2 separate regions of the Homo sapiens genome follow, and region 1 is linked to region 2. The links come from fine-mapping of genetic effects on gene expression. A gene starts in region 2. The other region holds a variant in brackets. All regions are shown on one strand. Distances are between the middles of the regions.

Region 1 (4,390 bases), 520 kb before region 2:
AACTTCTGCCACAGTCATTCTATTCTGTAGGAAATGAATAGGATGATGAGAAGGACAATAGGATCATTGTTCTTGCCCCTACATCACAAAACAATGACAAGTTCATAAGGCAGAACTCACTAGATCACACAGGAAGTTCTTTCGATAGACAGGCATGGATGATTTTCTGGCTAATAGGACACCTGTGTGCACACAAGCATATATAGAGTTAAAGCACTTTTGCTCATGGGAAGTATAATTTGAGAAGATGGCATAGGGTGTGAGCCACCATTTCTAGATTGCTAGGTGGTTAACCTCCCAATTAGACTTTATCTGGGTGGCCAATAATAAACATTTGTTGTTCGCTAAATATTGCCTGTTTGGAGGATACCAAAGGAGAAGATATGTAGAAAGCATGGCAGAAGGAAGATGACACACAATGAGATGAGAACTTGGGAAGTGTATCCTGTTAGGAGGGTAATGGGCTCTGCTAGGAAAAAAAAATAATCAGCATAGAGTTAATGCGGTCACTCCCTAAGAAAACAGATAGAGCACCTTTAGGGCCCTTTAATAATAGAGACAAAAGGAGTTTTATTTCAGAGCAGGAATGGAGTGGGTGCTATTCCAGTTTTCAGTGGGTCAGTTTGTATCCTCAGCTCAAGAGTAGGTTAGGAGCATGAGCTTTGTAGGAGGAGCAAGCCCTGGAAGAAGGCACCTTTTCCTCCCTCCCTTCACTCTTCCTAACCCACTAGGCTGCCCAGCTGCTCTGTTCTCTGCTGTAACTCCTGCTGTCTTCCCAGAGGATAGGGAAGTAAAAGCAGACATTTGTGGAATATGACCTAGAGGATTCCAGGGGCAGCAGTGCATAATCATAATGGGCTTGGCATTGTGTACTTTTAGACTGTCAATCAGCAAGCAGTCACAGAGTGCCTACTAATGTGAGATGCTGGACTAGGCCAAGCTGAATACACAGGTGACCAAGATGTGATCCCTGCCCTCAAAGAACTCAGATAAGTGGGCAAGAGACCAGAGAACAATTAGAAGAATAGACTATTGCAGCTGCTCCCACAGACACCTGTGCATGGCACTGTGGAGACCCATTCTACCCCCAGGGCAAGGAAGGTTCCTAAATAACTTCTAAAGGGTGAGTCTTGAAAGGTCAGAGAGTTCACCACAAGAGATGATGGGTGGAAGAGGATTCCAAGTGGAGACAGCCAGGCATGGAACCCATTTCTGGAGAATGGGTTTACTTGAGGAAATCATGGATCCCACAGAGGAAGGTTTTACAAACAATCATCCATTGATTGTACCAAATTGCCATGAACTGTGTCTGGTGAGGCTCTTCTAGCCTCTGGGCAGCATCAACTCCTTGTCCTGTTGTACCTGGGGTGAAAGGAGGGGCATGGAAGAGCCCACAGTACAACAGACTCATAGGCACAGAGGTCTTTTCAGACCTGGGACAAGCCTTGTGCATGCTTCATCACACAGATTCCTGCATATGGGGGAGAAACCTCAGAACAAAGTTTTCTAAAGGAAAAAATTCGAGGTCATCAATTCCTGTGGACAGAAGTTCAGCCATGAAATTTGGGAAATGGAAACACAACCCGGTTGGAAACGGCTGTTAATATTTTTATATTAGCACTAATACGCATCTACACAGTGCTTTAAGGCTTATGAGCCCATCACACATTCAGTCCTCCTGACTCTGCTGTGGGCTGGCATAACACTCACACCTTTTGGGTGAGAAACGGAGATGCTCTCCCCAGGACTCAAGCCTGATGCTTTTCCATCAGCATTTGTAACCCTCAGTGCCGCCCTCCTCTTGGCCCTGGTAAAATGGCACCAGGTCTGTAACCCAAAGGCAGAGAGGCACAGCAGTGGCTTCCCTTTCCTGGAGCAAGCCCAGCCTTGGCTTGTTTTTAAGGAGCGCTTTGCCCTGTTTCAGTCTGACCCAGATGCTTTTGGGGCCAAATCCTTGGAGATGGAGCTTTAGAAACAACACTCCCACCCCATTCCCTCTCCCCCACCAAATTCATCCCCTTGGCCCTTAAATAAGTTTGCGTGTGTGCGTCAGAGCTGGTTAAAATGTTTTGTCTATTTAACATTGCCATGGCAACCAAGGGGCATCTCTTTGGCTTTCAAGTGGTGTGTTCAGCAGAGTTATCTGTTAGTGTGGAAGGAAAAACATTGCTTGGAGGTTAGCCAGTGGGTGCTGGGGCGGCCCTGCTTCCCAATTTGAACTCACTGTACTCAGGACA[T/C]TGGGGGCATTGGCTCACTTTGGAGCCTGGGAATAGCCAGTGGCAGGGGGTGGTTTTCTTTTTTCATCATTATTATTTTAAGCAGCTTGGCTGTCTGTTGTTGATTAGGAGAAGTGCAAAGTTAGGGAGGCTTGCTTGCCTTTTCAGCAAAAAAGCCCCAGGCCTGCTTTCCCCTTTAGCTGATCTTGGACCTGGGGTCAGCTGAGCCTCCCAGCGCTGAGCCCCTGCTTCCTCCTGGGCTCTTCAAGGAGTCCTCCTGCCTTCTTCCCTCAGTGCATCTAGACGGAGGGCCAGCCTGAGCTTGGGGACCAGCCAGGCCAGGTTTCTAATTCCTTTTCTGCTATTCTGCAGCCTTGAGCTAATTACTTGACTCTTTGAAGCCTCATATTTCCTGTTCTATGAAGTGGGGTTGATAATAATACATACCTCATAAAGATTTCATGAAGACTAATGAGGCAATGAAAATGATAATAATGGATAATATTAATTAAAGTGATAAAATATAACCAAAGCTTACAGTGTTTGTCTTGTGCCAAGCACCATTCTAAGTGCTTTACAAATACAGCATGTCCCCTTAGTTCATCCTCCCAACAGCCCTTTGATGCGGGTGATCTTATTATCCCTATTCTCCTGGCATATAATCAGCACTCAGTATATGGCAGTTACTACGATAATGAAGATTTCTTTCAGTGATCATTCATGTTTTGGGGGACATAGAACCTTTTGGAAATCTGAGAACCCTTCAGAAATCTTCTAGCTCTCTCCTCCCCAAATTGCACTTATCCCAGAATTTTGCATACAACCTGAGCAGATCATGAACCCCAGAGGCCAGCTCATGTATGCCCTGGGGCTCCATAGACTCCAGGTTTGGTGCCCCTGCTGCATAGAGCACAGCCCTTCTTCTCACCCTGTCCTTTCAGGGAGCTCTATGGAAAATGCCAGCACTGGAGTTCCTAAGACAGTAGGAATCTGCACTTAGGCACAGAGAAGGGCCAGGCAGTGATTTTCTAACTTCTATTCCATAAGCAGAACCCCTCATTTTCCCAAATAAAAGCTGTGGAACCCCATATATGAGTGATAAAAGCTGCTATAAGTAGGGGTAGGTAGCCCAGGACAGGGCCACCATAGCTGCCCCTTGCAGGAGGCCAGCACCTGGGGAGATGCAGCGGGATGTAGCCTAGGAAGGAACATGGCAGTGTCAGGTTTCAGCTCTGCTCTTGGCTCCAGCCCTCCTTTCTCTGGTCCTCCTCAGTCTCTTTTCTGTGAAGTCGGATTAGGTCTTACCTCTGACCTCTGCAAGGCATCACAGCTGAGAGCAAGGGCTGGGAAGGCCAACTGCTTGTAACCCAGGTGTGTCCCTTAGTCTCTAAGGGAGCCAGTTCCTATAACAGAGGTAGTAACAGTATTTGCCTCATGGGGTTGTTTTAAGGCTTCCATGAGACAATCTACATGAAGTGCTGGCACGTTGCTGGCCACAGAGTTGCTGGCCTCAGTAGATGTTAGCTCTTTTGATGATTTTTCAAGGGACTTAAGTATTTGTTAAAAAACAGACATGCCTCGGGAACAGCCAACTCTGCTTTTGGGTGGGGGCTTGTTTAGTGGGGTTTGAATTCATTTGTATGCCTACATCTCTCTGAATGATAGCACTGGACTCAAAGGAAACCCCTGAGAGATCTCATGTCACAGAACACTGTGGTCAGTCTCGCTCAGTCCCATCATAAGTGGCCCTGGATAATCCACTTGGCCTTAGCACTTCACTTCCTTCTGTGAGAAATGTGGAAGAGAACAACACCTCGCAGGGTTACCATGAGATTTTAATGAGCTAACATTTATTGATCACTCACTATGCACCAGACTATGTGCTGAGAGCCTACTCAATCACTCAAAACAGCCCTATGATAAAGATGCAGTTATTGTCTATATTTTGTACATGGGGACTGAGGATTTAAAAGGGTGCTCGTGGTCCCAGATTCTTTACCTAGGGAGAGGCAGAGTTGGAGCTCGAACCCAAGTCTATTTTCAGAGATATGGTGTTTACCTCTGTGACAGAGAAGGGGTATCATAAAAATAGTCTCCACCTCACCAAGCCGTGTTCTCCTTAGTTTTCATCTGCAGCTACAGCAGAACCAGTTAGGTTTAGCTGAGAGTTAGCA
Region 2 (4,390 bases):
TATAGCAACATAGTCATAAGACATAATTTTTGATTATATAGTGTGTGTACATAAAATGAAGGGGCTCATGAAGTGCTTAGGGCCCATAGAAATCATAATGCAGGCCTACAAACAAGAATAAATACTAAAATATGTGTTAAGCCAAAAACCTGGGACACAAAAGAGTACATGCTGTACTCTTAAATAGAATTCTACAACAGGCAAAACTAATCTATGTTGATAGTGACCAGAAAGTGATTACCTCTGGAGTGGGGAGAGATTGCAAGAAGGGAATGAAGGCACTTTCAGGGATGGCAGACATGCTCTATATCTTGTTTTTGGTGGTGGTTATTTAGGTGTATATACAATCTCCTAAAATCATGGAACAGAACCTTTAGGTTCTGTACATTTTATTGTATATTAATTATGCCACAATTTTAAACAAAGGGGAAGAATAGACAGGGTACAATGAATAATTTCTGTGACAGATTTGATAAATGAATTACTAGGACAGTGTTTGCTGACAAGGTTTAACATTGCATTCTTGTAGAAAACCTTTAGGAACTCAAAGGGAAGAGTCCAGGCACTGTGACAGGCCAGTGGGGAATGAACCACACTGCTCTATATTAATCAAGCTTTTTTATTGCAAACAACAGAATATATCTGGTAAGCTTATACAGCACAGGAATTTATCAGAAGAATAACAGGAAGTACTGTATTCACAACAGTCTCTGAAAACAGGCAGGAATTTAAGACAAGATCAGACCATCAGATGGCTGGTGGATCATATGATGCCATAATCCTATACCCTTGCCCCAACCAACCCACATATATCTCAGGCCTTCACTGCATCTTTTCATTACTCCTCCAAAACTGAAAACCTATGCGTGAGCCTCTGGCTTGCTGAGCCTAGGCAAAGCCTACATATAATAACTCCCATGGAGATGGAAGAGGCAATGTGTTTCATTGGCTTCTAGATGGGAGGTGGGGCCCCCAAATGACCAATGTTCCCAACAAAACCTGAACAATCTGAAATTATTCAGATTTCTGCTTGTCATTCTAACCTCTGTTCAGGACTTCCAAGATCCAGGACAGGCCCAGTGTAGATACCTGTGTCCCAAACCACTGATCTGGGCTAGGAAGACTGAATCACAGGTGTGGAAGGTCACCCGGGTTCAACCATCTAGGTGATGAATTAGGCCAGGACCTGGGCAGGTAGACCATTTATTCTGGGGAGATATGATGCGAGCTTGAATTACATGGGAGAAATATTTGTAAGGCAGATGGGATAACAGGACTTGATAAGTCTGTAGTGTGGAAAGGCTAGAAAAGAAAGGAATCAAAGGAATCCTGATTTCTGACTTGACAGGGTAGAAGGAGGTGTGTGTGTGTGTGCGTGTGTGTGTGTATGTTTATGTAGGGACAGTGACACCCAAGAGAGGCTAGGAATAGGTTTGTTTTATTCCTGTTTGGGGTGGTTGGGTAGGCAGGGTTAAGTTTTTGACTTGGTGAATTTGAGATGATGGCCAATATACAATTGACATTCCAGCTGGGGGGACCATTGAAGATCAAGTCTGGCAAGTCTACTAGCTGGCGCCTGGGTGAGCTGAGCCCAGCAGGTGAGGGAAAACGCGGGAAGAGGGTCTTGCAGATTCCAAACTTAGGAAGGGTCGCGGCTCCGCGCACGTGCTCTCGGGGTCACCTTCCCCGCGCCTGTGAGGGTGCCAGGAGTTCGTCTCCAGGTCCCGCCCCTGTGGGCGGGGCGAGGCAGCGTCGCCGCGAGGCCACCCGGAAGACCAAGCCGGGTAGGCGCTGTCTCCGTCGCCTCCAACCCCCCCGGTCCGACCAGGGAAGGTGGGATGCTCTGATGGCCGGGCCTGCGGCGCTGAGCGCGGCGGCGGCGGCTGCTCTGGCGGCCGCCCTGCTCCTGCTGCGTCGTGAGGACCCGGGGCCGGGGGCTGGCCCCAGGTAACCCCTCCGCGTATGGGACCGAGCTGGGCCAGGTCTCCTGGCCGGGCCGGGGATACCGTGGGGTATGCCCAGTGATGCCAGCAGCTTGTGGCACCTGGGCGCACCCTCCAGCTCGGGCCCCTTCCGATGGGTCTGCTGGCTCAGGTGCGGGCGATGGCCGGGGAGCCGCGCCCCGCACGTGACTCAGCACTTTCCCCAGAGCCCGGACTGCGGAGAACAATATCCTCCTCCCTAACAGATAAACAGCCCTTGTTCCTCGGGATAAGGACTGGCAGTCCCCTGACACCCTAAGACCGGCATCTGTCGATGTTATTTCCCCAGCATGGCCGAAACAGAAGCCCTGTCGAAGCTTCGGGAAGACTTCAGGATGCAGAATAAATCCGTCTTTATTTTGGGCGCCAGCGGAGAAACCGGCAGAGTGCTCTTAAAGGAAATCCTGGAGCAGGGCCTGTTTTCCAAAGTCACGCTCATTGGCCGGAGGAAGCTCACCTTCGACGAGGAAGCTTATAAAAATGTGGTGGGTATTTCAGCTGGGACTCAAATGGACCCCCAGGATTCTGCGAGGTGAACATATTTCATGCCTAAAGGCTGAATACTGCCCTGCCAGTGGTGGGGGTAGTGAGAGGCCATCAAAACTTGGCCAAGATTGGTCTGTGAGAGTCCCTCCCAGAAGTCTGACTCCTGGATTGTAGCCCAGGTGTGCCTCCCTCCCGCTCATTGTGTGGTCTTGGGCAAAGCCCTTCTCTCCATCTGCAACCCTATAAAGCTGGGTCTGGGTTGTAATGGGGGTGGGGGCTGGTGAGACAGAAGAGCACTGTTTTCAGGGTCATACAAGCTGTATTCTAGAGGCAGCCCTGGTGACCTTGAGAATTTTCTCAGCCACTTTGCTGATTTTGTCAACCTGCGCACTTCACACTAATATTGTCAGGGATTCTGAAACTGCTTTGCAGAGTGAGATAGGTCTATGGCAGTGAAAGGTGGGATTATTCACTTACAAGAATTTGCCCTGCCTGACTTCCCAGGCTTGTGTCTGTAAATCGGATATTCCCTTCACTCTAAGTTAAAGGTTTTTTTTTTTTTTTTTCTGAGACGGAGTCTCACTCTGTCCCCCAGGCTGGAGTGCAGTGGCACGATCTCGGCTCAGTGCAACCTCTGCCTTTCAGGTTCAAGCGATTCTTCTGCCTCAGCCTCCCGAGTAACTGGAACTACAGGCGTGCGTCACCACTCCTGGCTAACTTTTGTATTTTTAGTAGAGACGAGACAAGGTTTCACCATGTTGGCCAGGCTGGTCTCGAACTCTTGACCTCAGATGATGCTCCCGCTTCAGCCTCCCAAAGTGCTGCGATTACAGGCGTGAGCCACCGCGCCCAGCCTAAGTTACACTTTTATGATTATAGGAATGATATACCAGACTTCTGTCTTGTCATGACCCCCTAAATATCAGAAGCCTGAGTTTCTTGGAGATTCTGTTCTTTATTTAAAGGGAATTATCTGTGAACTGCAACAAATTAACATAGTGTGATCTCAAGACACCACAGCTACAGAATTTGGCCCCACAGGTTTCATAGAAAGAACATTTCAAATAACAAGCCATCTTGCAAATAAATGTTCTTGATTCTCGCAGGTCTGTGTTCAGGTCATGGTGTGAATGCCTTTGGTCCATCAAGTCTTGTTTATTTAAAACAGACATCTTTCCTCAGGCTGAGGCAGATGTGTTCTCACCGGTTTCATGGGCTGTGTCAGATATTCATGGTAATTAGAAGCTGAAACTGAAGGCTGGGCGTGGTGGCTCATGCCTGTAATCCCAGAGCTTTGGGAGTCCGAGGCAGGGGATCTCTTGAGGTCAAGAGTTCCAGACCAGCCTGGCCAACATGGTGAAACCCTGTCTCTACTAAAAATACAGAAATTAGCTGGGCGTGGTGGTGCACGCCTGTAATCTCAGCTACTCAGGAGGCGGAGGTGCGAGAATCACTTGAACCCAGGAGATGGAGGTTGCAGTGAGCAGAAATTGTGCCACTGCACTCCAGCCTGGGTGACAGAGCGAGACTCTGTCTCAAAAAAAAAAAAAAAAAAAGAAAAGAAACAAATTGAAATCTGTGTTTTGAGTGTCGAGTTTTGGTGGCACATCTGTTTGACTAGGTACTTTGTGAAACCCTATTTTTCTTTTTCTTTTCTTTTCTTTTCTTTTTTTTTTTTTTTTTTTTGAGATGGAGTCTCACTCTGTCGCCCAGTCTGGAGTGCAGTGGTGCGATCTCAGCTCACTGCAAGCTCCGCTTCCTGGGTTCACGCCATTCTCCTGCCTCAGCCTCCCGAGTAGCTGCAACTACAGGTGCCTACCACCACAACCGGCTAATTTTTTTTTTGCATTTTTAGTAGAGACGGGGTTTCACCATGTTAGCCAGGATGGTCTCGATCTCCTGACCTCGTGATCCACCCACCT

The links. PIP is the estimated chance that this variant, and not a neighbour inherited with it, causes the effect.
Region 1: its variant is the best candidate, but not a certain one, in a credible set for the expression of HTATIP2 in uterus (GTEx, PIP 0.74).

What each region holds. Positions count from the first base shown.
Region 1 is chr11:19,844,976-19,849,365 of GRCh38, forward strand. All of the region lies in intron 3 of NAV2 (neuron navigator 2), which reads left to right. Among named protein-coding and RNA genes, the nearest start is that of MIR4694, 87 kb to the left of the region's middle. The variant T/C (reference allele first, on the strand shown) is at 2,238.
Region 2 is chr11:20,361,966-20,366,355 of GRCh38, forward strand. HTATIP2 (HIV-1 Tat interactive protein 2) reads left to right here and starts at 1,749. Exons shown (of 5, transcript NM_001098522.2): 1 at 1,749-2,467. The coding sequence starts at 2,273. RefSeq lists silencers at 1,750-2,169, 1,956-2,098.